Homo sapiens: one gene and its partners. The protein of the gene in region 4 interacts with the protein of the main gene of each other region in a pairwise test. Each region holds a gene or a part of one and is shown on either strand. Other genes may lie near its edges.

Region 1 (4,155 bases), on a different chromosome or scaffold from region 4:
TGGGGGGGATAGAGTCTCGCCCCACCTCCCAGGTTCAAGCAATTCTCATGTCTCAGCCTTCCACGCAGCTGAAAATACAAGCGTGCACCAACAAGCCAGGCTAATTTTTGTATTTTTTATAGAGACGGGATTTCGCCATGTCAGCCAGGCTGGTCTCGAACTGCTGGCCTCAAACTCCTGGTCTCAAACCCCTGGTCTCAACTCCTGGCCGCCTCTGCCTCCCAAAATGCTGGGATTCCAGGTGTGAGCCACTGTGCCTGGCCTACAAGGGAATGATTAACCACTTCTGGAGATGGGAGGAGGGGTAAGTTTGCGGGTTACCAAGAGGCTACAAGGTACTGCTAATGTTAATGTGCCATGTTTTAAGCGGTCTGTAATGGTTACATCGGTGTTTATCAGTGTAATTTTAACTCTAAATGTGTATTATTTACAATTTTTTGTATGCATGACGTATTTGATGTACATTTGAAAACATACACACATGGCCGGCCACGGTGGCTCACGCCTGTAATTCTAGCACTTTGGGAGGCCGAGGCAGGTGGATCACGAGGTCAGGAGTTCAAGATCAGCCTGGCCAGGATGGTGAAATCCCATCTCTACTAAAAATACAAAAATTAGCTGACGCAGTGGCAGGCACCTGTAATCCCAGCTACTCAGGAAGTTGAGGCAGGAGAATCGCTTGAATCCAGGCAGGCGGCAGAGGTTGTAGTGAGCCGAGATCGCGCCACTGCACTCCAGCCTGGGTGACAGAGTAAGACTCCTTCTCAAAAAGAAAAAAAAAATACACACACATACATGCACATGCACAGAAAAGATCTCTAAGTCATATCTCCTGGCATTGGATATTGTTCTAACAAGGGCCCAAATGTCCACATTTGTAATACAAATGAAGCAACAGAGAGGATTTCAGTAGGCAGTTGATTGAATGACAGGACTTGCGTGCCTTCCTACCTCTTGCGGCGTGACCCTGGAGTATTTGTGCTTCCTGTAGGGCTGATAGTCGACCATGTGGGAGCTTTGGTATATGTCTAAATCCACAGGGTCCTAAAGCACAAGGAGAATATAAAACAAGAGATTCCCTCGTCACTCCTCCACTTAAAGCCATTCAATGGCTTCTTGCTGTTTGTAGGACAAAGGCCGACTTTGGGGCCTGACATTCAGAGCCCAAATGATCTGGCTGTGACCCATTTTTACCATCCCGCCACCTTCCTGCCTTCTCTACTCCAGCCTTACTTCCTCCCACTTGCATGGGCCTGGCATGTGCTCTTTCCTATCTCCTGATGGAAATGCAAGTTGCCCTCCTCACAGACTAGCAAACTCCTACCTATCCTCCAAGACCCAGACTAAATGTCACTTCCCCAAAACATCTCTCCCACCCTTTTATTCTCCACCTCCCAAGAGTTAAACCCTTTCCTTGTTCCTTACAACCCTCCACAACAGCACTTGCAGGGTGTACTGTGATGGATTTAATGAAGTACACTAGAGCAGGTTTAGTGTACTTAGACATCTCTGCAGTCCCAAAGCCCAGGACAGGGCCTGGCACACTGTGGGTGCCTAATAAGTGCATGCTGAGTAAATAACTGAACCCCCAGAAAATTATAAAGAAGAAAACTCAGTTCTCTTCTTCTTCTTGTACCAAAAAAAAAAAAAACCCACAAAACCCAAAACTATCATTACAGAAAGATGAGCTTCTAGAAAGAGCCTGGCCCTTCCAGGGCCTTGCTGAGGCTACCCAACCCTGAGACCGTCACAGGGGACAGAAACCCACATCACTCACCTGTCCCGGGTATTTCACACCTGCCATGGCAAACGACCTAGACACAGACAAGTTGTTTAGCCCTGCTCTGCCACAGACAAGGAAAGTAGCCACTATCTTCAAGCTGTGCCAACCAAGCATGGCTGCCCCAGCTTTCTTAGCCCACTCCTCCCCATCTTCCCTGGGCTCCTACCCTGCATGTCACTCCATCATCAAGGGGTTGGTGGTGATACCAGGGTCCCTGGGACAAAGGGGCTGGAGCAGGACTCAGGAGGAATGAGGGCTGTTTAGAAGATCACATTTACTGATCAGGTTTACTGTTTGAGAGGTATAGCTGATCCTAGGGCAAGTGAAGTGCTGGTAAATGTTTAACAACCATGTTTTCAGGGAAAATAGGCCCTGGGTTTATAGCATCTGCCAATTTCTGTGGTGTAAATGCTCCTATCATGGCTCATTTCAGGCTATCAACATAATGTCATTGGCACTGAGTTGCACAGATATGCACAGGATGGGCTCTTGTGAGCCAGTATGAACTGGCTCCAGCTCACATGTTCCTCTGAACCAGGCCTCAGCACTTCCCCTGGATAGAGGAAGGCCCAGGCCTAGGACTCAGAGCCACCTTGATTCACAGGGGAGTATCCAAGGTGAAGAAAGTTGCAAGACTCTGCATTCCCAGTTGAACAACAGTAGTTTGTAGGCCTAACACTGACCCCTCCCTTCCAGCCCTGAAGTCCTAGCGAGGGCCTCGCTGCACAGACTCCTTGTGTGCGTGGCCCCTAGATCCTTAAGGGGTACTCCACTGCATTCCCAGGGAACCCTCCCCTAAGCCCCACTCTCTTCAGCAGACTGTGGCCCAGCAGGGTGGTGCCCAGACCTCAACCAACACCTGTATCCCCTCCCTTTTGCTCACAGACAGCTTCTCTCCTAGGGCTGGGGACCAGCTGCCACGCAGACAGAGCCTACCGCTTCTTCTGCCAGGGCAAGACGACGCTCCTGCCCTCCCACCTCCAGGTGCCCTTGCCACATGGAGAGTCCTGTTGCTGTGTCCCACTGCCACGCCTGTCTTTGAGTTGAGCCCTGACCTGTATGATGAGGGTCCCTGTCATTGTGAGGTGAGTAGGTGGCTGCTTGGGCTGCCTGCAGGTCAGTTCCCTGTCCCTGGCTCACCAGAGCCAACATGAATCCTGGCAGCACATGAACCAATGCTTTCCGATACTCTACAGAATCTTCCTAGTCCTAGGAGAGGAAGGTAAATAGAGCCCATGTGGTTTACAACATCAGACTGTGTGTGACTAAATCCACTTCACACCACAGACTGCCACCCAGGCCTCTGCTGCCTGAAAGCCTGGCTCAAAATTGTCAAAATGTCACTTTTTGACATTCATAGTGTGTGGCTACAATAAAAAAAAAATACAGAAACAAGCGTTGATGAGGATGTGGAGAAATTCCACTTCTAGTTATAAATAAAAAAGAATTGAAAGCAAGGGCTCAAATGGATACCTGTACACCAACGTTCACAACAGCATGGTTCACAATAGTCAAAAGGTAGAAACAACTTACATGTCCTTCAGAGATGAATGGATTTGGTATCTACGTACAATGGAATATTATTCAGCCTTAAAAGGGAGGCCAGGCACGGTGGCTCACGCTGGTAATCCCAGCAACTTGGGAGGCCGAGGCAGGCAGTTTGCCTGAGGTCAGAAGTTCCAGACCAGCCTGACTAACATGGTGAAACCCCGTCTCTACTAAAAATACAAAAATTAGCCGGGTGTGGTGGTGCACGCCTGTAGTCCCAGCTACTCGGGAGGCTGAGGCAGAAGAATTGCTTCAACTCGGGAGGCAGAGGTTGCAGTGAGCCGAGATCACACCACTGCACTCCAGCCTGTGTAACAGAGCGACACTCTGTCTCAAAACAAAATTAAAAAAAAAAAAAAAAAGGGAAGGCAATTCTGACACGTGCTACAGCATGGATAAACCTTGAGGACATTATGCTAAGCAAAATAAAGCAAAATAAGCCGGTCACAAAAAGAAAAATGCTGCATGATTCCACTTCTGCGAGGTACCTAGAGAAGTACAATTCATAGAGACAGAAAGTAGAATGATAGTTGCCAGAGACTGAGGAGAGGAATGGGGAGTTACTGTTTAATGGATATGAAGTTTCTGTTTCAGAATATTAAAAAAAGTTCTGGGAATGGATGGTGGTGATGGTTGCCCATTGTGAATGTACTTAATGCCACTGAATTATTCACTTAAAAGTGACTAAAATGATAAACTTTGTTATATATATGAAATTGTATATATATTTGTATTTTATATATTTTATGTAATTATATACAAATATGTATATTTAATTTTATATATAATATTAAACATATATGTTACATATATTATATATATAA
Region 2 (3,500 bases), on a different chromosome or scaffold from region 4:
TATTTCCCTATACATTATTTGAAAACACTGATCATACAGATGTGTTTACTCACTGGGCTTTTTTTTTGAAGTAGGGTCTTGCTCTGTCACCCAGCCTGGAGTACAGAGGCACAGTTGTGGCTCACTGCAGCCTTGAACTCTTGGGCTCAAGCGATCCTCCTGCCTCAGCCTCCTGAGTAGCTAGGACTGCAGGTGCATACCATGATACCTGGCTAATTTATTATTATTGTTATTTGTAGAGATGGGGTCTCACTATGTTGCTCAGGCTGGTTTCAAACTCTTGGCCTGAAGTGATCCTCCTGTCTTGGCCTCCCAAAGTGTTGGGAGTACGGCATGAGCCATCACACCTGGCCACTGGGCTTTATTTTAAGGCTAGAGCCTCGCCTTGCCAGCAATGAAAGAAGTGCACAGTAAGCCAGCTGTATGGCATCATAGATACCTACCAATTACTTAAAATGATAAAATCAATGAAAGGATGGCTCCTAGGAAACAAGTACCCCACTGGCTGCACCCAAAGCATTTCCACCATTTTGTTTTTGGTTTGTTTTTTTTTTGAGATGGAGTTTCGCTCCTGTTGCCTAGGCTGGAGTGCAATGGCGTGATCTCGGCTCACCACAACCTCCGCATCCTGGGTTCAAGTGATTCTCCTGCCTCAGCCTCCTGAGTAGCTGGGATTATAGGCATGTGCCACCTTGCCCAGCTAATTTTGTATTTTTAGTAGACAGGGTTTCTCCACGTTGGTCAGGCTGGTCTCGAACTCCCGACCTCAGGTGATCCGGCCGCCTCGGCCTCCCAAAGTGCTGGGATTACAGGTGTGAGCCACCGCACCCAGCCTCATTTCCACCATTTCTATCTTTTGGAAGAACAGACTAATATCAAGGGTCATGATGTGCAGAACATCTGTTGACAGACCAAATGCTCTATTCTTTCCATTTGGAGAACATATCTCAAGGAAATAAATTGGAAAGGGAAAAAACCCAGTAATTTGTACAAAGATTTACTGTAGAATGTGATGAAGAATTGGGAAAAGCCAAATGCCTAATAAAACTATGTCAGTCAATACACGGAACTGTTTACACATAATAATAAGTGGGATAAACAGAACATGGTATTAGTTACATAGAAATACTGAATAAAAACAGCAAAAGTATATTAATGAATATTAAACAAAATTTAAAAATTTAAGGTAATAAAAAAAGCTGAATTTAGAGTTCATTCAATTCTTTCCTTTTGCAAAGGTAATTGTTTCTAATTTTAAAAGCCAAGAAAGAGCCGGGCACAGTGGCTCATGCCTGTAATCCCAGAACTTTGGGAGGCCAAGGTGGGCAGATGGCTTGAGCCCGGGAGTTAGAGACCAGCATGGGACAACATGGCAAAACCTCATCTGTACAAAAATATACAGAAATTAACCAGGTGTGGTGCCATGCATGCCTGCCTGTAGTTCCAGCTACTTGGGAGGCTGAGGTAGGAGGATCGCTTGAGCCTGGGAAATAAAGGCTGCAGTAAGCTGTGATTGCACCACTGCACTTCAGCCTGGGTGACAGAGCAAGACTCTGTCTCAAAAAAAAAGCCAAGGAAGTTGCAGAATATAGAAGTAGATATAAGTCTTCCCTTCCTAATGTACCAAACACTCAAAAGCCAACATTTTCAAAATTTCACTGAACAAAAAAAGTAATTTTGTTCTTACCTGTTTGCAGTCCAAGTTTGGTTGAAGATAGAGGTGTCACTGAAGGAATTGCAGAGGATTAGGGAATGGACTCTAGGAGATTTGTGAGTGTATTCAGCAAATTTCTGGGCCAAAAAGCCTCCCAAAGAAGCGCCAAAAAGATGAACCTAATTATAAACAAATATAAGGCAGATTCTGAAATACTGATCAATCTTGAACCTGAGTATTAAAAAGTTGCTTCAATTATCACTAACCACAGAATATGTTATCACTAGCCAATAGACTAAAATATTTACAGCAGCTAGAAATTTAGAAAATATTGTATTTAAATGCAATTTATACAGTCCATCAAGATAATACAACTTGGCATCCAAGTTATATAATTAAAAAAAATATCATTCACAGATTGCATTAGAAAACAAAACCAGTCCAGGCACGGTGGCTCACACCTGTAATCCCAGCACTTTGGGAGGCCGAGGCAGGCAGATCACGAGGTCAGGAGTTCGAGACCAGCCTAGCCAGCATGGTGAAACCGTCTCTACTAAAAATACAAAAAAACTAGCCAGGCATGGTGGTGCGTGCCTGTAGTCCCAGCTACTCGGGAGGCTGAGGCAGCAGAATCGCTTGAACCTGGCAGGCGGAGGTTGCAGTGAGCCAAGATCGCACCACTGCACTCCAGCCTGGGCAACAGAGCGAGACTCCGTCTTAAAAAAAAAAAAAAAAAGAAAAGAAAAAAAGAAACCAACAAAACCAAGCTAGGGAAATATGGAAAAGGCCTGTATACTAAAAATACAAAAATTAGCCAGGCATGGTGGTACGTGCCTAGAGTCCTAGCTACTTGGGAGGTTGAGGTGGGAGGATCGCTTGAGCCCAAAAGGTTGAGGCTGCAGTGAGCCATGATTGCACCACCGCACTCCAGCCTGGGCAACAAAGTGAAAGCCTGTCTCAAAAAAAAAAAAAAAGAAAAAACTCAAAACCACTTAGTGGTTTATGTCTAAGAAAACTGTGATTCAGTAATTCCACCCCTAAACACATACCTAAGAGAACTGAAAACATATGTCAACACAAAAACTTGTACATGAATGTTCATGGCAGCATTATTCATGATATCCAAAGGGTAAAAACAACCCAAATGTGCATCAGCTGATGAATCGTTAAACAAGATATGGCATATTTATAAAAATATGATTTAACTGTAAAGAGAAACGAAGTATTGATTCCGGCTTCAACATGAATGAACCTTAAACTCACAATGCTAAATAAAAAAAGCCAGTCAAAAAGACCACATATGATACGATTCCACTTATGTAAAATATCTAGAATAGGCAAATCCATAGAGATAAAAATAAATTAGGTTGCAGGGCTAGTAGGGGGGAAGATGAGGACCGACTGCTAATGAATATGAGGTTTTTGGCATTAAAAAAATTATAAAACATTGACTGCAGTGATGGTTGCACATACCTGGGAGTATACTGAAAAACATGGAACTGTATACTTAAAAGGGTAAATTATATGGTATATGAATTATGTTGCAATAAAGCTATTATTAAAAAATAAAAGAGGGCTCGGCACGGTGGCTCACGCCTGTAATCCCAGCACTTAGGGAGGCTGAGGCGGGCGGATCACTTGAGGTCAGGAGTTTGAGAGCAGCCTGGCCAACCTGGCGAAACCCCATCTTTACTAAAAATACAAAAACTAGCCGGGCATGGTGGCACACGCCTGTAATCCCAGCTATTTTGGAGACTGAGGCAGGAGAATCACTTGAATCCGGGAGGTGGAGGTTGCGGTGAGCCGAGATCGCGCCACTGCACTCCAGCCTGGGTGACAGAGTGAG
Region 3 (3,500 bases), on a different chromosome or scaffold from region 4:
AGGATCTAAGGTGGAAATTCAGCAAAGAATCACATAGTCTAAGTCTCGAGTTTAACAGTAAGATAATTTGAGATACTTTTGTAATTATTAAACACAAAGTAATGAGAGATTTTAAAACAAACAAATACACCTGAATTTATATATCAGAATAGGTATGGTGGTTCAAAATAGCTATCTAATAAAAACCACACTCCTATTCTAAACATTTGCCTTTGATCAAAATAATTTTGGGTCTCTTATTATGAAATTGCCTTTCTAAATAATACATAAATTTCTTCTCATAAGTATATATTAGCCACATTATTTTATTGTTATTGTTTTATATTCATAGCTTGCTTTAGATTAAAAATTATATTACCCAGACTGGTCTCTTGGACTTGCTTCCAAGTGACTTTTGACTGTATCACAAAATCAAATTCACTCTGAAAATATAAAGATTTTTCATCATAATTTCCTTTGTTAACAGCCAAGTGCTACCTAATTTTAGGTGTTTTCATTAAAAAAAAATGCATTGCAAACTTTAAAGACAATTCTTTTGTTTGTTTGTTTTTAAAAGACAGAGTCTCACTCTGTTGCCCAGGCTAGAGTGCAGTGACACAATCATAACTCACTGCAACCTCCACCTCCTGGGCTCAAGTGAGCCTTCCATCTTGCCTCACGAGTAGCTGGGTCTTCAGGTGTACAGGTGTGTACCACCATGCCTGGCTAACTTTTTTTTTTTTTAAGTTATATAGAGACAGTATCTCACTATGTTGCCCAGGCTGCTCTTGGAGCTCCTGGCCTCAAGTTATCCTCCCACTCAGTCTCCCAAAGTGCTGGGATTACAGGCGTAAGCCACCTCACCCTGTCAGCCTAAAGACAGTGCTTAATGAAGAGAAATATAAGTGCTTTGAGCAATGGAAGTATAATTAAAATTATACTATGAAAGATTTATAAAGATGACCATTTTGAATGGGACCACACTTATTTGGTTATATAAATTATGATACACTATTAAAAATTCATCATGATGATTTTGTATTTACATTTTATTTACATGTTTGCAATTTGTGAGGAAAGCTAAAATTATGGCTAAGCCATAAATATTTTTGCAGTTTGTTGAGGGTGTTTGTAAAAGTGTTGCCAAGGAAGACCAGTTGGCTACCCAAACAAGGGTTTAGTCTAGGTCTGATCAATACATACACATTATCTCAGGTTTGTCTATCAGAAAAACCTTAGGTTATCCAAATCAAAATAAAATAGATGCATAAAACAAAGGCCAATATGTGTTGAACAATTATATTGTGATATACAACTGCCAAGCATTCCCGATTACCATGACTCCATTTAGTCAGTCCATGGGCAAATGCCATCAATGAGGACAGCCCAGGGTTTCCATATTCTCTCTTGGCTTTACATCCTATAGGAATTGGAGGGGCCCACCTCTGGGATAGGAGCCCTTCTGTCTTGAACAATGTTGTCTGAACACTAACAAATGTTGACTTTCTACACCAGTCCCTCAATAGTCTTTTCTATTTATCCTTTTGCTGACCATGTTTTGTTATTACACAGTTGAGATTTTTCAGCTGGGAATCTGTGTTAATTTTGTATTAATTTTGATTAGCTTAACTCTCAGAGTTCTAAAAGTACCTCCTGTACCTGATATATGACAAAAATTATAATTACATTTATTTATATATAAAATATCTTTGTATATGTAAAATATCTTTGTATATATAATTATATAATTGTTTCTTTTAATTTTGCAAATTTTAAAAAGTTCTCCTTTGTTTTGAAGTTTATTCCTATAGTTTTTTATATGCTAGTTAAATTATTAATCACTTGATTCAAGTAATATTCTTATATACTTATAAGGAATAGTGTAGTTTTAATATTTAATTCCTTGCTAAAGAGAGAAGTGGAATCTATTTTTCTTAGCTACTTCATCAATATTTTATGTTTGATGTGACAGTCAAAATATCCCTCAGAGCTAACTGTTACACTAGGGAAATCACGGTTTTCCAGTTTTCCATTTATGTGTTATGGGAGGGAGTGGAACTTAGTGTAATAATATTCAATACATAAATGTTAACACTTGTTTAAAGGTCCTTGAGTGAGTACTGCTATAAAATGCATTATTATTGCTAGTGTCATTTCACAAGAGCCTATAATTTCAGTGTGATAGAGCTACAATATAAGTATAGTATTGCAAAACCATCAGGAAGGGTGTTAACTATTTAGCATGCAGTTATGTGTTGGTTGTCAAAACGTTAAAAACATCTCTGACTCAGCAGCAATTTTGGCAATTTTGATCCTGAGGCATCTGTGTAGGGCATCTTCCTGGAGAAAAACCTCTGAGATGCAATGAGGTCAAAAGGGGAAAACAGACTATGATAAAGATCAAGTTGTTTGGAGATCTTGTAGAAAGATTAATTTACAAATATGTCAAGTGCATTATCATGGAGGAAAACATTGCTATTTCTGTTGGTTCTCTTCAGAGCTCTAGAATCAATTTACCACATAGTTGTTTCAGTGTGAAATTAGCATTACAGAGTGGCTTTACGGCTTTACTGTAGGGCATTGTGTCAGCAAAGAGCTTAGGCTTCTTTTAGCAAGAAGCTTGTAAAAATTTAATTTACTCTTAGATTGCTTGATGTAGAGAATTACATTCCTACAGAGCTCTGAAAAATCTTTTTTCAGAGTTTTTCACAGCTGTATTCAAGTTGCAAGGCTTGTCAACTTTGCTATTTTTCTGTGCAGCTCTGTTAACTTATTATTATCTTTTGACATAAATTATGATTCCAAATTGTAAAGCTCTGGATGTCAGGGCCTTTTCTAATTTGTTTAGTATGATATTCAGACCATTTCAAGACTCTTCCGTGGAACAATTTAATAAAGATTTTTTTGTGATGTTAATGAGTTCATGGTGATCAACCCTAGAGACCTGTGTCTATTGTAGATCGATGACATTCAACAGTCCTGCAGTGCTGGCATCATTTTGATAAAAAGGGGTCAAAGCAAGTGGGACTGTGGGCAGATTTTTAATGCTTAGAACAATTATTCCATCGAAGTTTTCTTGTGTCCCTTCTGCCTTAGCCTTTGTAGGATAGCATGCTTGCTAATTTCTTGCTCATGGGGTAAGGAAATGAAGATTTTTGCTAGGTCCGTAGGATTATTAGGACTACTCAGGCCTGAAGCTATGCCTGGATATAGCCAGAAAACTCTCCCATAGCTTGCTCCAAGGAGCTGAGATACAGCAGTACTTCCTTTGTAGGTCATGATTCTGGGTAACCTGGAAGATGACCTCATTCATATTCTGTATTCTATGTGAGACGTTAAGAAGGTAGAGGTGGCCAAGAAGGAAATTGTTGCTGCCTTTATGGAACAAATTATCTGAAACCCAGCTTTCTCGAGGGCTTCATTGAAGTACTCAACTGGGGCACTTAACCCAGTCTAAGGCTGGTCAAGGAAGGCTTGCTGGGGGAAGTGTCTTTTGTATTCACACCTAAAGGAGGTTATTC
Region 4 (3,500 bases):
CTTAATTAATTTAAACTTAGCTAATTTAAACTTTTAATTGAGTATAATTTGGAGCTTAGTGCTCTTAAACCCACTGAGTAGATAATAACAGATTATAGGCCATACTAGGAATGTAAATGCAAGGTTCTTAAAAGTTCTGGTAAGATGTATCAGTGTGCTCCAAAGACCACCAGGAACACACCTGTAGTTGAATGAAGTTGGGTTTACTGACTTACTGCAGCAAGGGAGAATGAATACCACGGAGAACAATAGGATGTCTTACAAGTATGTTAGAAAAGTATTTTTTTTTGGGCTTGGGTTTGTGTTACCTGATTTTGGATAAGGTTCAAGGAAGTAGAGCTTTGCTCTGCATTGGATGCTCTCAGGAAGTAGAGATGATTCTATGTTTGGGTATCTTATCAAATCTTATCTAGAAGGTGAGAGGAATGAATCTTACTAAATCTTATCTGGAAGGTGAGAGGAATGAATTGAGGCTAAAGCTGCAGTTGGTAAAGTAGTAGCAGTTACTCATATTAGCCAGGATAAAAGGTTGTTTGGTCATTTTTCTGGTGTGGTCAGTGTTCTTGTTTTTGTCTGGAGTTTTGACATGGTTATGGACTGTTGATCTATCACAGATTATAGTCTTGTGTGATGTTGGTGTTCTTTGAAATATTTATATTCAACGGGAGAACACCACAGCCTACCTGTGAGTGCCAGGCCAGCTTCCAGCAACACTAAGGCCTGTCTTACTGTACCAGACCAGTTTCTGGCTGCTAGGAGCTGTTTTTCTCATCAAATATTGGAGAAAAAACAGTAATACCAAGTGAAAACCAATAATTGATGTAGGTAGGAGATTGTATTGAACTTCATAGCTATGCAGGGAGTATGTGAATTACTGTGAGTTTTCTTCTAAAAGCTTATAATTGGTGGTTTGATTTTGAAACATGTTTAACAAAGAATCGCCCTGAACTTTTATTTTCACGTAGATGTCCTTTTCTAATTAGGTGCTTCAGGAGTTTGTATGTATGTATACTGGCAATGTGCAAAGCATTTTAGTTTAATTTTTGAACGCCTGTCTTGGGGTTTGCAATCAGAGCCTTGTGTCACTTTCTTTTTAAAAATAACCTGAGTGGTGACAGTGTTTGTTGCTGAATGAAGGATTTCATTTTTTTCAGTCAACTGAAAATCATTTGGACAAAATGAATAATAAGTGAAGTAATGTTGCTTTCATTAAAAAATCACAACTAGAGATTACCGAGTAATCTCTGGCATTTTGTGGCTTATATACTGTTTCTGGAAGTAACTGCTTTGAAGGACAGTCATGATGTAGATAAGTTCTGCATATATTTTTAAATTTATATTTATTTTTTAAAATTTTTTGAGACAAGGTCTCCCTCTGTCATCCAGGCTGGAGTGCAGTGGAGTGATCTCAGCCAACTGGACTTCCCCTCCCGGGATCAAGCAATCCTCCCACCCCAGCCTCCTGAGTAGCTGGGACTGCAGGCATGTGCTGCCACACTTGGCTAATTTTTTAAGGTTTTTGTAGAGATGAAGTCTCACTGTATTGCTCAGGTTTTTCTTGAACTCCTGGGCTCAAGCAGTTCTCCCTCCTTGGCTTCCCAAAGTGGTGGGATTACAGGTGTGAGCCACCATGCCTGGCCCTGCATATATTTTTTTAACGATTTCTTTTAAGATCAGCTATTTTAGTTAGCTGTTTTTTTTCAAGACAAAGTTATGCAAGAGGGATAACAGACCTATCAGTCATGTTATATCTTTAAACATGTATAGAGTAAGGTATTTTTGTATTATTTTAAGAATAGCGTGAAATAAAATGAGCTTTTTAAGTTATATAATTTTTATTAAATTTAATAATTTCTATTAAATTTAATAAATATTTAAGAACAGCATGAAATAAAGTGAGCTTTTGAAGTTATGATTTTTATTAAATTTAATCATTTCTATTAAAAAGTAGAGCTCGGATTTTCCTACCAAACCTTTTTACCAGTAAGGTCATAGGCTATAGGTATGGCATCAAGAAAGACTGATAATTCTGCTTTTTTTCCAAAATAAGTTATTAGCCATAGAGAATTCTTTTTTTTTAAAAAAAAAGTTACTCCATTACATTGATATCTTGTTTTTGTTTTTTTAAAGGAATTGTATTTATTTTTCCTTGTTGCATATTATTAGTATACTTATTCATGAACTTCTAATTTTAAGCAAATAAATGTTTTTATTTCAGTTAATGGCCAGCCAAGACCCCTTGAATCAAGTCAGGTGAAATATCTCCGTCGAGAACTGATAGAACTTCGAAATAAAGTGAATCGTTTATTGGATAGCTTGGAACCACCTGGAGAACCAGGACCTTCCACCAATATTCCTGAAAATGGTAAACCCTGAATCCATTGTATTCTGACTTATTGTTCTTACGTCTTTTTGGAGGTTTTAAAAAACTCTTTTTAAGTAGGAGAAGGATGGCATCCCCAATGTCACTCTTGTTTCTTCCTCTGCCTCTCTACTAGTATTTATGTCTGTGTTCCTAAACTTTGCTGTTCATCAGAATTACTAGGAGGTTTCATTATACCAATTTCTGGATCTCATCATAGACCTACTGGAGCGTAGCACCTGGAAATCCCATTTTTAAAGTGTTTTTTGGGTGATTCTTTCGCAACTAGTCTTAGACTTTTGGATTTGTTACACAGGTCAGTTTTCAAATCCTTTTGACACATGAACCCTTTTTAGTATAATAGATAAGTAATGAACCTTGGGAATTGAAAATCATTTCATGAATAATTACATAGTGTTGGAAGTATTTTCAACTAAAAATCACTTAGATTAGTAATGTTCATTAAAAATGGTATGTTGTAAATTTGAAACACAGTTTTTAATAATAATTAAAGAAAAACTAATTTTTTCCCCATTGTATAATGACATGTACTGTTTGTGTTAAGATAAAGCAAAATGTGTCAACATTTGGAACTGACATAATTTTGGGACCGAATGTATTTTAAAATGTGGACTGAACTTTAAGTATGTGTTAATGACTTGAAAGTACAGTTAAAAAACTGCTTTCTTCTTTTAAGATTCTTAGATGTTGCATTTAAAGAAAACTCTTATTATTATTTTTTTCTTTTTACAAATTCTTTGTTTGCTTATAATTTTCATAGTTTAAAACTGTCCATATTGTGAAATAGTAATTTAAAAAAAGTCTAGACTGGATGACTGCATATAAAGGGCTTAACATGAGATAATTTTTGTGGATAAATGGTATGTATTCTATTTTTGGCCACTAAATATTTTGGAAGTTTTTGTTTTCTATTTTTATTTTAGTTACAGTTTAAATAAAGATGTATTTTCCATCATTTCTCTCTTCCTGTCTTCTAATAGTCATATGGAATTATGTTAATGATAGATGTTTAATAAATATTTGGTGATTGATTATTCCTAGTTGCACTTCTATTTCAGAACATAATGGAGATTTGCTGAATACTATAATGAGATCCTCTTGGTCACTTTATGATGAA
Region 5 (3,500 bases), on a different chromosome or scaffold from region 4:
TGAGTTTTCCTCCTCAATGTTGAGCAAATCTTCTTCCCTCCCTGCCTGAAAATGCAGTACCCCCCACCCTGAGACCCTGACCCATGCCAAGGGCAGCCAAGCCTGCCAGAAAGACCAGCCCAGCATGGCCGAGGGCCCATGTCCCCACCCCTGCTGCAGCTACCTTCCCACCACGCTCCACGGTCTCGTGGACTTTCTTCAGGAAGTCTCGCTCCCGGCAGCGCTTGGAGTCACGGATGGTCGTGGCGTACGTGGACTCTGTGATGAGCAGGTTGGGGCGGCACTTGTCAATCCAGGCAGCTCTGGAACACGGGGGTGGGGGTGTGAGCCACGATGCACTGTCCCCACGGTTGCAGGGCTGGGTGTGACAAGCTGGACCCCAGTACCACGCCCAGCCGCCTTCCTAGGTCACTCTGGCTGGAAAGAGCCAGCTGGTAAAATGCTGTGGGCAGCACACTTGGGAAGAGAGAGGAGAGACAGAGGCACCCACCCAGACACTTCGGAAGAGCGAGACAGAGGCACCCACCCAGAGACTTGGGAAGAGAGAGAAGGAGGGACAGAGGCCCCTGCCTGGACCCTGTGCCTTCGCGCATTTGGGCCCAGAACGAAGGGGGCTCTCCAGGCCGCACAGGACATGGGAGACACTGCCAGGCTGGCCACTCAAGGGCTGGCACCCTGACACCTGCAAGGGTCCTGAGCTCCAGGGGGGCCCACGGGACAAAAAGACACCTCAGCCTACTTACCCTAAGTGTCGGTCTGGGGTCATGTTATAATCACCCTGGTGAACGATCAAGGATGCCATGAGGAGGGTGCCTCCCACCCCAGCAGCCCCTCCCAAGCCTCAAGCCCTTCCACTGACCGTGTAGACCACAGACTCTGAGCCCACTTTAATCTGGAACATGGCTGCCCCCAGCACGTGGCCTGCATAGTAGGCCTTGATCTCCAGCTCATCATCTACCTGTGGAGGACAGGGCTGCGCTCAGGCTGTGTCCTCACAGCAGAGGGGCGGGGAGTGAGGGAGGCGGGGGACGGGAAGCGCGGGAGGCGGGGGTGGGGAGCGTGGGGGAAGGGGAGCGAGGGGGCGGGGGCGGGAGCGAGGGAGGTGGGGGCGGGGAGGGAGGGAGGGAGGCGGGCAGCGAGGGAGGCAGGGGCAGGGAGTGAGGGGGGCGGGGGCAGGGAGGGAGGCGGGGCGGGGAGCGAGGGCACTGCACTGAGCTTTTCAGTCCCTGTTGCTCACACACAGCATCCAGTTCACAAGGGACGGGCAACGTGGACAAAGAACGAAAGACAACGGACAAAAAACTGAAGGGACCTGAAATTGGAGTTTCCAGCGTGGACTTTGAATACATGACAGAGAAAAGACAAGGTTCAGAATGTTGGCGGCCAGGCCTAAGGTGGATCCCTTGGGGTCAGGAATTGGAGACCAGCCTGGCCAACATGGTGAAACCCCGTCTCTACTAAAAATACAAAAGTAAGCCAGGTGTGGAAGTGCGTGCCTGTAATCCCAACTGCTCAGGAGGCTGAGGCAGGAGAATCGCTTGAACCTGGGAAGTGGAGGTTGCAGTGTACTGAGATCACGCCACTGCACTCTAGCCTGGGCAATGGGGCGGGACTCCATCTCGGTAAAAACAAACAAAAAAATACTGGGCTGGGCACAGTGGCTCACACCTTTAATCCCAGCACTTGGGGAGACCAAGGTGGGCAGATCATCTGAAGTCAGGAGTTCAAGACCATCCTGGCCGACACGGTGAAACCCTGTCTCTACTAAAAATACAAAAGTTAGCTGGGCATGGTGGTGGGTGCTTGTAATCCCAGCTACTCAGTAGGCTAAGGCAGAATTACTTGAACCCGGGAGGCGGAGATTGCAGTGAGCTGAGATTGTGCCATTGCACTCCAGCCTGGGCAACAAGAGCGAGAGTGTCAAAAACAAAAATTGGCAAAAAACTAGACTTCTTTTAAATTTAATTTATTCATTTAAAACTTGCCGGGTGCGGTGGCTCATGCCTGTAATCCCAGCACTTTGGGAGGCTGAGGCGGGTGGATCACCTGAGGTTGGGAATTCAAGACCAGCCTGACCAACACGGAAAAAGCCCGTCTCTACTAAAAATACAAAATTAGCCGGATGTGGTGGTGTGCGCCTGTAATCCCAGCTACTCGGGAGGCTGAGGCAGGAGAACTGCTTGAACCCGGGAGGCGGAGGTTGCAGTAAGCCGAGATCGCGCCACTGCACTCCAGCCTGGGCGACAGAGCGAGACTGTGTCTCAAAAAAAAATAAATAAATAAAATTGAGAGACAGGGTGGGGCTGTCACCCAGGCTGCAGTGGCGCAATCATGGCTCACTCAAACTCCTGGGCTCAAGCGTCCTCCCGCCTCCACCTCCGCCTCCCAAATAGCTGGGACTATAGGCACGCACCCACCACGCCAGGCTAATTTAAAAACAAAATTTTGGCCAGGCGCAGTGGCTCACTCTTGTAATCCCAGCACTCTGGGAGACCAAGGCGGGTGGATCACCTGAGATCAGGAGTTCAAGACCAGCCTGACCAACATGGTGAAACCCCCGTCTCTACTAAAAAAAAATACAAAATTAACTGGGTGTGGTGGCACACGCCTGTAATCCCAGCTACTCGGGAGGCTGAGGCAGGAGAATCGCTTGAACCCAGAAGGCGGAGGTTCAAGGTGAGCTGAGATCGCACCACTGCACTACAGCCTGGGCAATGAGAGCGAAACTCCATCTCAAAAAAAAAAGAAAAAAAAAAAGAATTCAACAGATGAATTTAACACCATATGACACATAACCAGAAGAGAATCCATGAACTGAAAGACACCAGAGGGAATATCCATCAGGAAACAGGAAAGACAAACAGATGACGGAGTTTCAAGAGGTTGAACGTCAGGCTCTCGGGGTCCCTGGAGGAGCAGGAACGGGGCAGAAACAACACTGGAAGAAACATGATGAAGGCCTCAAGCCACAGATCCAAGAGGCCTCAAACTCTAAACAGGCTGAGGATACATGTCAGCCCATCAGAGCACAAGCACCAAAAACCAAGGCTCCTGCTCAGACCCTACGGCTGCCCATGCCCAGAGACAGAACGTTGTTTGCAAAGTGCAGAGACAAAATACTGTCAACCTAAAATCTTACACACCTAAGGGAAAAAAAGTCCTTTAAGAACGAGGATAAAGTAAATCCATTTGCAGGCAAATAAATTTTTTTTTTTTGAGCCGGAGTCTCGCGTCTCGCTCTGTCTCCCAGGCTGGAGTGCAGTGGTGGGATCTTGGCTCACTGCAAGCTCCGCCTCCCAGGTTCACGCCATTCTCCTGCCTTTCAGCCTCCCGAGTAGCTGGGACTGCAGGCGCCCGCACCACGCCCAGCTAATTTTTTTGTATTTTGTTTAGTAGAGACAGGGTTTCACCGTGTTAGCCAGGATGGTCTCGATCTCCTGACCTCGTGATCCGCCTGTCTCGGCCTCCCAAAGTGCTGGGATTACAGGCGTGAGCCACCG
Region 6 (3,500 bases), on a different chromosome or scaffold from region 4:
CTGGCACCATCACACAGGCTGGCATCAGTGTCATTTACAAGAATTGTAGCTGTGTAAAGTAGCTGGTCACCTGATTTTTGGTGTGGGAGTTCACAGACTCAGTCTTGGTGTATTCCTCTTGTCTATTTTAGTGGGAGGCTGGATCTTTTCCAATCCAGATGGAGTGTGCACAGCAGGAAACTCCAATTACCAGTATGCCGCTCCTCTGCCTCTGCCTGCTCCCCACACCCACCATGGCTGTGAGCACTATTCGGGTCTCCGAGGACACCGGCAGGCTCCCTACCCTTCTGCGTACATGCACAGAAACCATTCTCCCTCAGGTCTGTGACTCTGCTGATTAAACCCTTGGGGTATGGGCTGGGGTGGGGGCAGTCAGGAGAAATGGATAAACAGCTAGGAAAAGGAGTAGCTAAAGATGGAACCCCGTCATCTAATATACATCTATGATATGATTGTTTTTGTGTTTTATTTTATTGTTATTTTATGTACAAATATTTGATTAACTAGGTATAACAATCTTAGTTTTTTTTAAAAAAATTATTTCATAAAACCCCCAGTCTCCTGGTTTCTAATGAGCGTGAAAGGCCAGGACACTGATATTCTGAGCAGTTCAGGCAGATCTCTAAAAGCCATGTCAAGTTGTGTGGGTCTGAAACACTCAGCTCATCACCTTCGCATGGCTCTTTTCTATAGTTGCATTCATGGCTCAGTTCAGGGAATACTGGGTCTAGCATTAGGGAATTATTAGGAAGGTCTCTGGGAAGCTGGATCCCTATATGTTCAGGCCTTAGTCTGATTCAGTTGGAGACATGCAAACCCAACCTTAGTATTTTAAAATAATTTTTGCTGTCTGTTTGTTTTAAGTTAGCAGTATTGTTTGTGTGCTTTTTTCTCATTGACTATTGCCTTTTCCACCTTTGCCTTATGTAGGCCCAGACCTTGCCTGATTATTAGATTTGTAGAAAGAAGGGAGAAATGAAAACAATGGTTACTTTTTCATTAAATTATTCATGCAACAAATATTTATTGAGGATCGACTATATGCCAGGCTCTGTTTCAAGCACAGGAATGAAATGGACAAATGCCCTGCCCTTACGGAGATTCTATACTAATATGAAAAGATTGACAATAAAACAAGTAAAGTTCATGGCATGGGAGACAGTGGAGAGTATTTGGATTCCAGCCTCCTTCCTTCCTCAGTGACACCCTGAGCTCTGCATTTGTAGAGGGTCCTCCTGGTCACCAGCTACCTGTCCCTGTGTCCCTTAGCCTGCTATTCTTGGCAACCTCAACAGTTGCTGCCAGGTGGGGAGATTATGTAGCTTACCAATAGCAGAAACTGAGCAGTGGCTCACTCTACTTCCTCATTCTTTCCTGCGGTCAGCATCAAATCACATCTTCTGAGCACCTACTGTGTACCGTGTTCTTCTAGGCAGTGGGATAGGAAAGTGATTAAGACATAGTTTCAGGGCCGGGAGCGGTGGTTCACGCCTGTAATCCCAGCACTTTGGGAGGCTGAGGCGGGCGGATCACAAGATCAGGAGTTCGAGAGTAGCCTGGCCAACATGGCGAAACCCCGTCTCTACTAAAAATACAAAAACTAGCCAGGCGTGGTCGTTGGCGCCTGTAATCCCAGCTACTTGGGAGGCTGAGGCAGGAGAATTGCTTGAATCCGGGAGGCAGAGGCTGCAGTGAGCCAAGATTGTGCCACTGCACTCTAGCCTGGGCAACAAGAGCAAGACGCCATCTCAAAAAAAAAAAAAAAAAAAAAAGATATAGCTTCTTCCCTGGAGGAGCTCGGGGTTACACAAATACGTAAATAATGAATCCTAATGTAATGCAGAAACATCACCTGGGAACTTGTTAGAAATGTAGACTTTCAGGCTCTACTCCTGAGTCAGGGTCTGCATTTTAACAAGATCACCAGGGGATTCATAAGCGCTCTAGAATTTGAGAAACAGTCTATAAAACACATAAGTCAGGGTGCCATGTGAATGAAGGAAAAAGAGCAGCTAGATATGCCTGGTGGAGGAGCAAAGGCTGCCCAGAGGGGTTAACATTTAAATGGAGCCTTGAAAGATGAATAGAAAAGGACAGAGTGGGAGTGGGCAGGGGTAAAAGGTGGAGGATGACATGTGCCAAAGGCAGAGGTGCAGGGCATTCCAGGTAGAGAGAGTGGGCTGAGCAAAGATACAGAAAGGGGAAAGACCCTAGGTTGTCTGGGAACAGCTTTGGAGCAGAGTGTAGGGGGAGTGGGGACAGATGGAAGATGTAAGAGTTAGGGCTGGAGAGCTTGGAAGTGCCAGATCGTAAAAAGAAGAGACATGGCCAGGTGTCTTAGTCCCCTTTGTGGCGCTATAACAAAATACTTGAGATTGGGTAATTTATAAGCAATAGACCTTTATTTTCTCATAGTCCTGGAGGCTGGGGAGTTTAAGATTAAGGTGCCAGCATATGGTAAGGGTTTTTTGGCTGTATCATAACATTGCGAAAGGCATCACATGGATGGTGGGGGAAAGAGGGGGAGAGGGCAGGAGGCTAAACCCATCCTTTTATCAGAAACCCATTCCTGCAATACTGACATTAGCCTATTCCTGAGGGTAGAGCCCCCATGGCCTAGTCACCTCTTAAAGGCCCCACCTCTCAACACTCTTGCATTGGGAATTAAGTTCCCAACACATGAACCTTGGGGGACACATTCAAACCATAGCACCAGAGATAGACGTTGGAATCTTCCTTCTCTCTCTCCCTTCTCCCCCTTTTCCCTTCCTTCCTCCCTCCCTCTGCCTTCTTCCTCTCTCTTATTTGTATACTATTTATGCAAATAGAGATTCAAAGAAATGGAAGACATTCTTCCCCCACCCCCATAAAAACTGTATATATTCAAGGTGTACAACATGACGTTTTGATATACATATGCATAGTGAAGTGATTACTGCTGTCAAGCAAATTAACATGTCCATCTCCTCACATAGTTACTTTTTTTCATGATGAGAGCACCTGAAATCTATTCTCTTAGCAAATTTCCAGTACACAGTACAATATTATTAACTATAGTCTTCAGATTGTAAGTTAGATCTCTAGACTTATTCATCCTACACAAGTGCAACTTTATATCCTTTGACCAATATCTCATTTCCCCAGCTTCCCACCCCTGGTAACCACTGTTGTACTCTCAGCTTCTATGTATTCAACTTTCTTAGAGTCCACATATAAGTGAGATCATATTATGTTCTTCTTTTTGTAAAAAGGTATGTTTTTTTCTTAATTTTTTTTTTTTTTAATTGTAGAGATGGTGTCTCTCTGTGTTGCCCAGAGAGGTCTCAAATTCCTGGGCTCAAGGGATTCCCCTGCCTTGGACTCCCAAAGTGCCAGGATTACAGGTGTGGGCACCATGCCGGGCCAAAAGGCACTGTGCTTGAGATATTTAAACCTACTCAGGGATGGCCGAGAAGAATAAGTTCCTGGACCTCAGAAATCTCATCTGGGGCACTGGTGGC
Region 7 (3,500 bases), on a different chromosome or scaffold from region 4:
AAATTTCAAAATCAGTGTTCACCATTTCTTAAATATTCCTTAAGGAACTTTCTATGCATACATTATTATTACTTAAGCGGAATCTTATTTATGTAATGTGTTTTTCTTTACATAGGAAAGTTTTCCATAATAGTTCATACAGCTCTATTAACTTCATCCCTTTTAATGGCTGCACATCATACAAAAATGATTTGCAATTTAATTTACCTTCTTTTTGTAGCAGTATAAGTTGTTTTAAGTATGATACAGTGAACATCTCTCAACACTTCTTTGTTTGTGTGTGAGAATCTAACACCAGGAAAAAGCACTGGACATGGAATTTAGAGTCAACAGATAAATTTATCTAAAATCCATTTGAAAAGTCCATGCCAATTTACACTCATTTCTCTAACTCCTTTTACCACTGGATATTATTAAATTTATTGTTTATAATGACAATAGATATTAAAAATTAGCGTCTTATTTTAACTTACATTTCCTCGTCTTTTTTTTGGAGACAGGGTCTCATTCTGTCACCCAGGCTGGAGTGCAGTGGCGAGAGAGATCACAGCTCACTGCAATCTTGACCTCCTGGGCTCAAGTCATCTTCTTGCCTCAGTCTCCCTAATAGCCGGTACTACAGGTGTGTGCCATCATGCCCAGCAAATTTCTTAAAATTTTAAAAATTTATTGCAGAGACAGGTGTCTCACTATGTTGCCCAGACCCGGTCTCAAACTCCTGGGATCAAAGGACCCTCCTGCCTCAGCCTCCCAAAGTATTGGGATTATAGCCATGAGCCACTGTGTGTACTCCCAAATTTAAATTTATTGATGTCCTGGAGTACTTTTACCAATTTTTAAATTGAAGTGTAATTAGCACTCAACAAAATGCAGAGATCTTAAGTGTTCAGATTAACAAGCTCTGATAATTGTATACGCCCCTATAACCACCCCAAGATACAGAACATTTCTCACTCCAGAAAGTTTACTCATGCTCTTTTCCAATCAACTACCTTGCCTCATGGCAGTCAATTTTTGACTTAATTTTGCTTGTTCTTTGACTTTATATAAATAAAAGACTGTAGGTACTCTTTGCCTTTGATCATTTTATTACTCAGTAGCACATCTTTTTCTCTCACTGCTTTGTAAGATACTAAGCAGACTAGCTTTCATATATGAGATTAAAATTTTTTGGCCGGGTGCAGTGGCTCACGCCTATAATCCCAGCACTTTGGGAGGCCGAGGCAGGCGGATCACGAGGTCAAGAGATCGAGACCATCCTGGCTAACACGGTGAAACCCCGTCTCTACTAAAAATACAAAAAAACGATTAGCCCAGTGTGGTGGCGGGTGCCTGTAGTCCCAGCTACTTGGGAGGCTGAGGCAGGAGAATGGCATGAACCTGGGAGGCGGAGCTTGCAGTGAGCCGAGATTGCGCCACTGCACTCCAGCCTGGGCAACGGAGGGCTACTCCATATCAAAAAAAAAAAAAAAAAAAAAAAAAAAAAAAAAAATTTCTCCAAAATTCCTTTTATCTGTAGATCTCTTAAAGGGCATATTTTGGTTATACAAAAGTTTTAAATTTCATGTCATCAAATCTATCAATGTTTTCCTATACGTGGCTTCTGGATTTTGTGATATATTTACAAAGGCCTTCCCTACTCTGCCTTGCTTTCATATAGTATTTTTATGGTTTAACTTCTTGTTTAAAACCTTTAAATTCTTCCAAACAATAATTATCAACTATCTATCTTTTCTCAGCTAATTGGACAAGCTACCTTTACTACACTATACTGCTGCCATTTATAACTAGCATCTATCCAATATTTACCATGAAACATGGAACATGGTGGTGTACTGTGCACCACCTCACTTGGTAGCTCCAGAACCCAGATACAAATTTTATTTTCACCCCCAGTTTACAGCTGGAGAAGAGGAAGCTTGGCAAGTTAACTTGTTTAAGGTCCCAGAGCTAATGACAAGGAGAGAAGCAGTTCAAACCCAGTATGACTCCAGAACTTAGGCTCTTAACAAGCAGGCTATAGAGCCTCCTTCATTTCCCACAGATATTGTGGACTTTATTCTTTTCTTTTTGAAACAGTCTTGCTTTGTTCCCTGGCCAGAGTGCAGTGGCACCATCATAAGCTCACTGCAGACTCGACCTTCTGGGCTCAATCGATCCTGCCCAGCTAGTTTTTTTGTAGAGATGGAGTTTCACCATGTTGCCCAGGCTGGTCTTGAACTCCGGAGCTCAAGTGATCTGCCTGCCTCGGCCTCCCAAAGTCTTGGGATTACAGGCGTGAGATACTGTGCCCAGCTGACTTTATTCTTTTCTACTGGTCTGCAACTGTACCATTCCATTTTAATTACAGAAGCTTTACAATATATTTTAAATAAACATTAATGTGAGTCACCCTACTGTCTTTTTTTTTTTTTTTTTTTTCAGATTTTCCTATGTATTTTTATTTTTTCCAGATCGTTAAAAAAAAAAATTAATGTGTTAGCATTCTGGTTGGAAATGTATTATATTTACAGATTAATCTAGGGGAACATCTATTTAAAATGTCAAATCATCTCGTTCAAGAACAAGGTATAGTATAGTCCCTCGGTACCTGAGGGAGATTGGTTCTAGGACCCCCATAGATACTCAAATCCCAGGATGCTCAAGTACCTGATATAAAATGGTGTAGTATTTGCATATAACCTATGCACATCTTCCCGTATAAATCATCTCTATATTATTTATAATACTTAAAAGTGTGAATACTATATAATTATATTAACTTATATTTTCTATGGTTATTTTTATTGTTTCCCCCAAGTATTTTTTTTTTTTTGAGACAGGGTCTCACTCTGTTGCCCAGGCTAGAGTGCAATAGCATGATGTCAGCTCACTGCAACCTCCATCTCCTGGGTTCAAGAGATTCTCCTGCCTCAGCCTCCTGAGTAACTGGGATTATAGGCAAGCGCCGCCATGCCCGGCTAATTTTTTGTATTTTTAATAGAGACAGGGTTTCACCACGTTGGCCAGGCTGCTCTTGAACTCCTGGCCTCACGTGATCCGCCCGCCTCAGCCTCCCAAAGTGCTGGGATTACAGGCATGAGCCACCGCACCCGGCTCCCTGAATATTTTCTACCCGCAAATGCAGACACAGAGGACTGTTTAGTTCCTGTCCTTTTCATGTAGTTTATTTTCTTGATCAGATCTCCTATATACATTTCTTTTAAGGGATTTCTGTTAAACTTTTCCCTGTGGTTGTAAATAGGCTCTTTTCTTCTACTGTATTTTCTAATTGTTCGTTCATATATGGGACAGGGTTTTAAAATTTTAGTCTATAGCAGGTCCTCGAAAGACGTTTCATTCAACTTTGTTTTGTTATAATGTTGATGAGAAGAAAAAACAAAAAGTCTCAGCTGAGGTCACTGTCTGTGTGAAGCTGGCTCATTCTCCCATCTTTATGGGTCTTCTCCAAGTACTCCAGTTTCCTCCCATATCCCAAAGATGCACATGAATGGATGTGT

The links.
Region 1: the proteins of TFG (region 4) and SPMIP9 interact in binary tests that used the Homo sapiens proteins (3 or more experiments, as listed by UniProt).
Region 2: the proteins of TFG (region 4) and SPG21 interact in binary tests that used the Homo sapiens proteins (3 or more experiments, as listed by UniProt).
Region 3: the proteins of TFG (region 4) and CFTR interact in binary tests that used the Homo sapiens proteins (3 or more experiments, as listed by UniProt).
Region 5: the proteins of TFG (region 4) and INTS11 interact in binary tests that used the Homo sapiens proteins (3 or more experiments, as listed by UniProt).
Region 6: the proteins of TFG (region 4) and TBX19 interact in binary tests that used the Homo sapiens proteins (3 or more experiments, as listed by UniProt).
Region 7: the proteins of TFG (region 4) and MAPK1IP1L interact in binary tests that used the Homo sapiens proteins (3 or more experiments, as listed by UniProt).

What each region holds. Positions count from the first base shown.
Region 1 is NC_000002.12:88,523,294-88,527,448, reverse strand, and holds the start of SPMIP9 (protein SPMIP9), read right to left. Parts: upstream 2,801-4,155; 5' UTR 2,667-2,800; exon of another isoform or gene 2,643-2,666; intron 2,040-2,642; exon of another isoform or gene 1,950-2,039; intron 1,815-1,949; 5' UTR 1,805-1,814; coding exon 1,778-1,804; intron 1,045-1,777; coding exon 952-1,044; intron 1-951. UniProt on the Homo sapiens protein: Microtubule inner protein (MIP) part of the dynein-decorated doublet microtubules (DMTs) in flagella axoneme.
Region 2 is NC_000015.10:64,972,915-64,976,414, forward strand, and holds part of SPG21 (maspardin), read right to left. Parts: intron 1,834-3,500; coding exon 1,688-1,833; intron 1-1,687. UniProt on the Homo sapiens protein: May play a role as a negative regulatory factor in CD4-dependent T-cell activation.
Region 3 is NC_000007.14:117,483,025-117,486,524, forward strand, and holds part of CFTR (cystic fibrosis transmembrane conductance regulator), read left to right. Parts: intron 1-3,500. UniProt on the Homo sapiens protein: Epithelial ion channel that plays an important role in the regulation of epithelial ion and water transport and fluid homeostasis. Mediates the transport of chloride ions across the cell membrane.
Region 4 is NC_000003.12:100,726,494-100,729,993, forward strand, and holds part of TFG (protein TFG), read left to right. Parts: intron 1-2,218; coding exon 2,219-2,365; intron 2,366-3,500. UniProt on the Homo sapiens protein: Plays a role in the normal dynamic function of the endoplasmic reticulum (ER) and its associated microtubules. Required for secretory cargo traffic from the endoplasmic reticulum to the Golgi apparatus.
Region 5 is NC_000001.11:1,314,661-1,318,160, forward strand, and holds part of INTS11 (integrator complex subunit 11), read right to left. Parts: intron 959-3,500; coding exon 860-958; intron 779-859; coding exon 744-778; intron 303-743; coding exon 164-302; intron 1-163.
Region 6 is NC_000001.11:168,304,877-168,308,376, forward strand, and holds part of TBX19 (T-box transcription factor TBX19), read left to right. Parts: intron 1-131; coding exon 132-320; intron 321-3,500. UniProt on the Homo sapiens protein: Transcriptional regulator involved in developmental processes. Can activate POMC gene expression and repress the alpha glycoprotein subunit and thyroid-stimulating hormone beta promoters.
Region 7 is NC_000014.9:55,058,147-55,061,646, reverse strand, and holds part of MAPK1IP1L (MAPK-interacting and spindle-stabilizing protein-like), read right to left. Parts: intron 493-3,500; exon of another isoform or gene 476-492; coding exon of another isoform or gene 474-475; intron 1-473.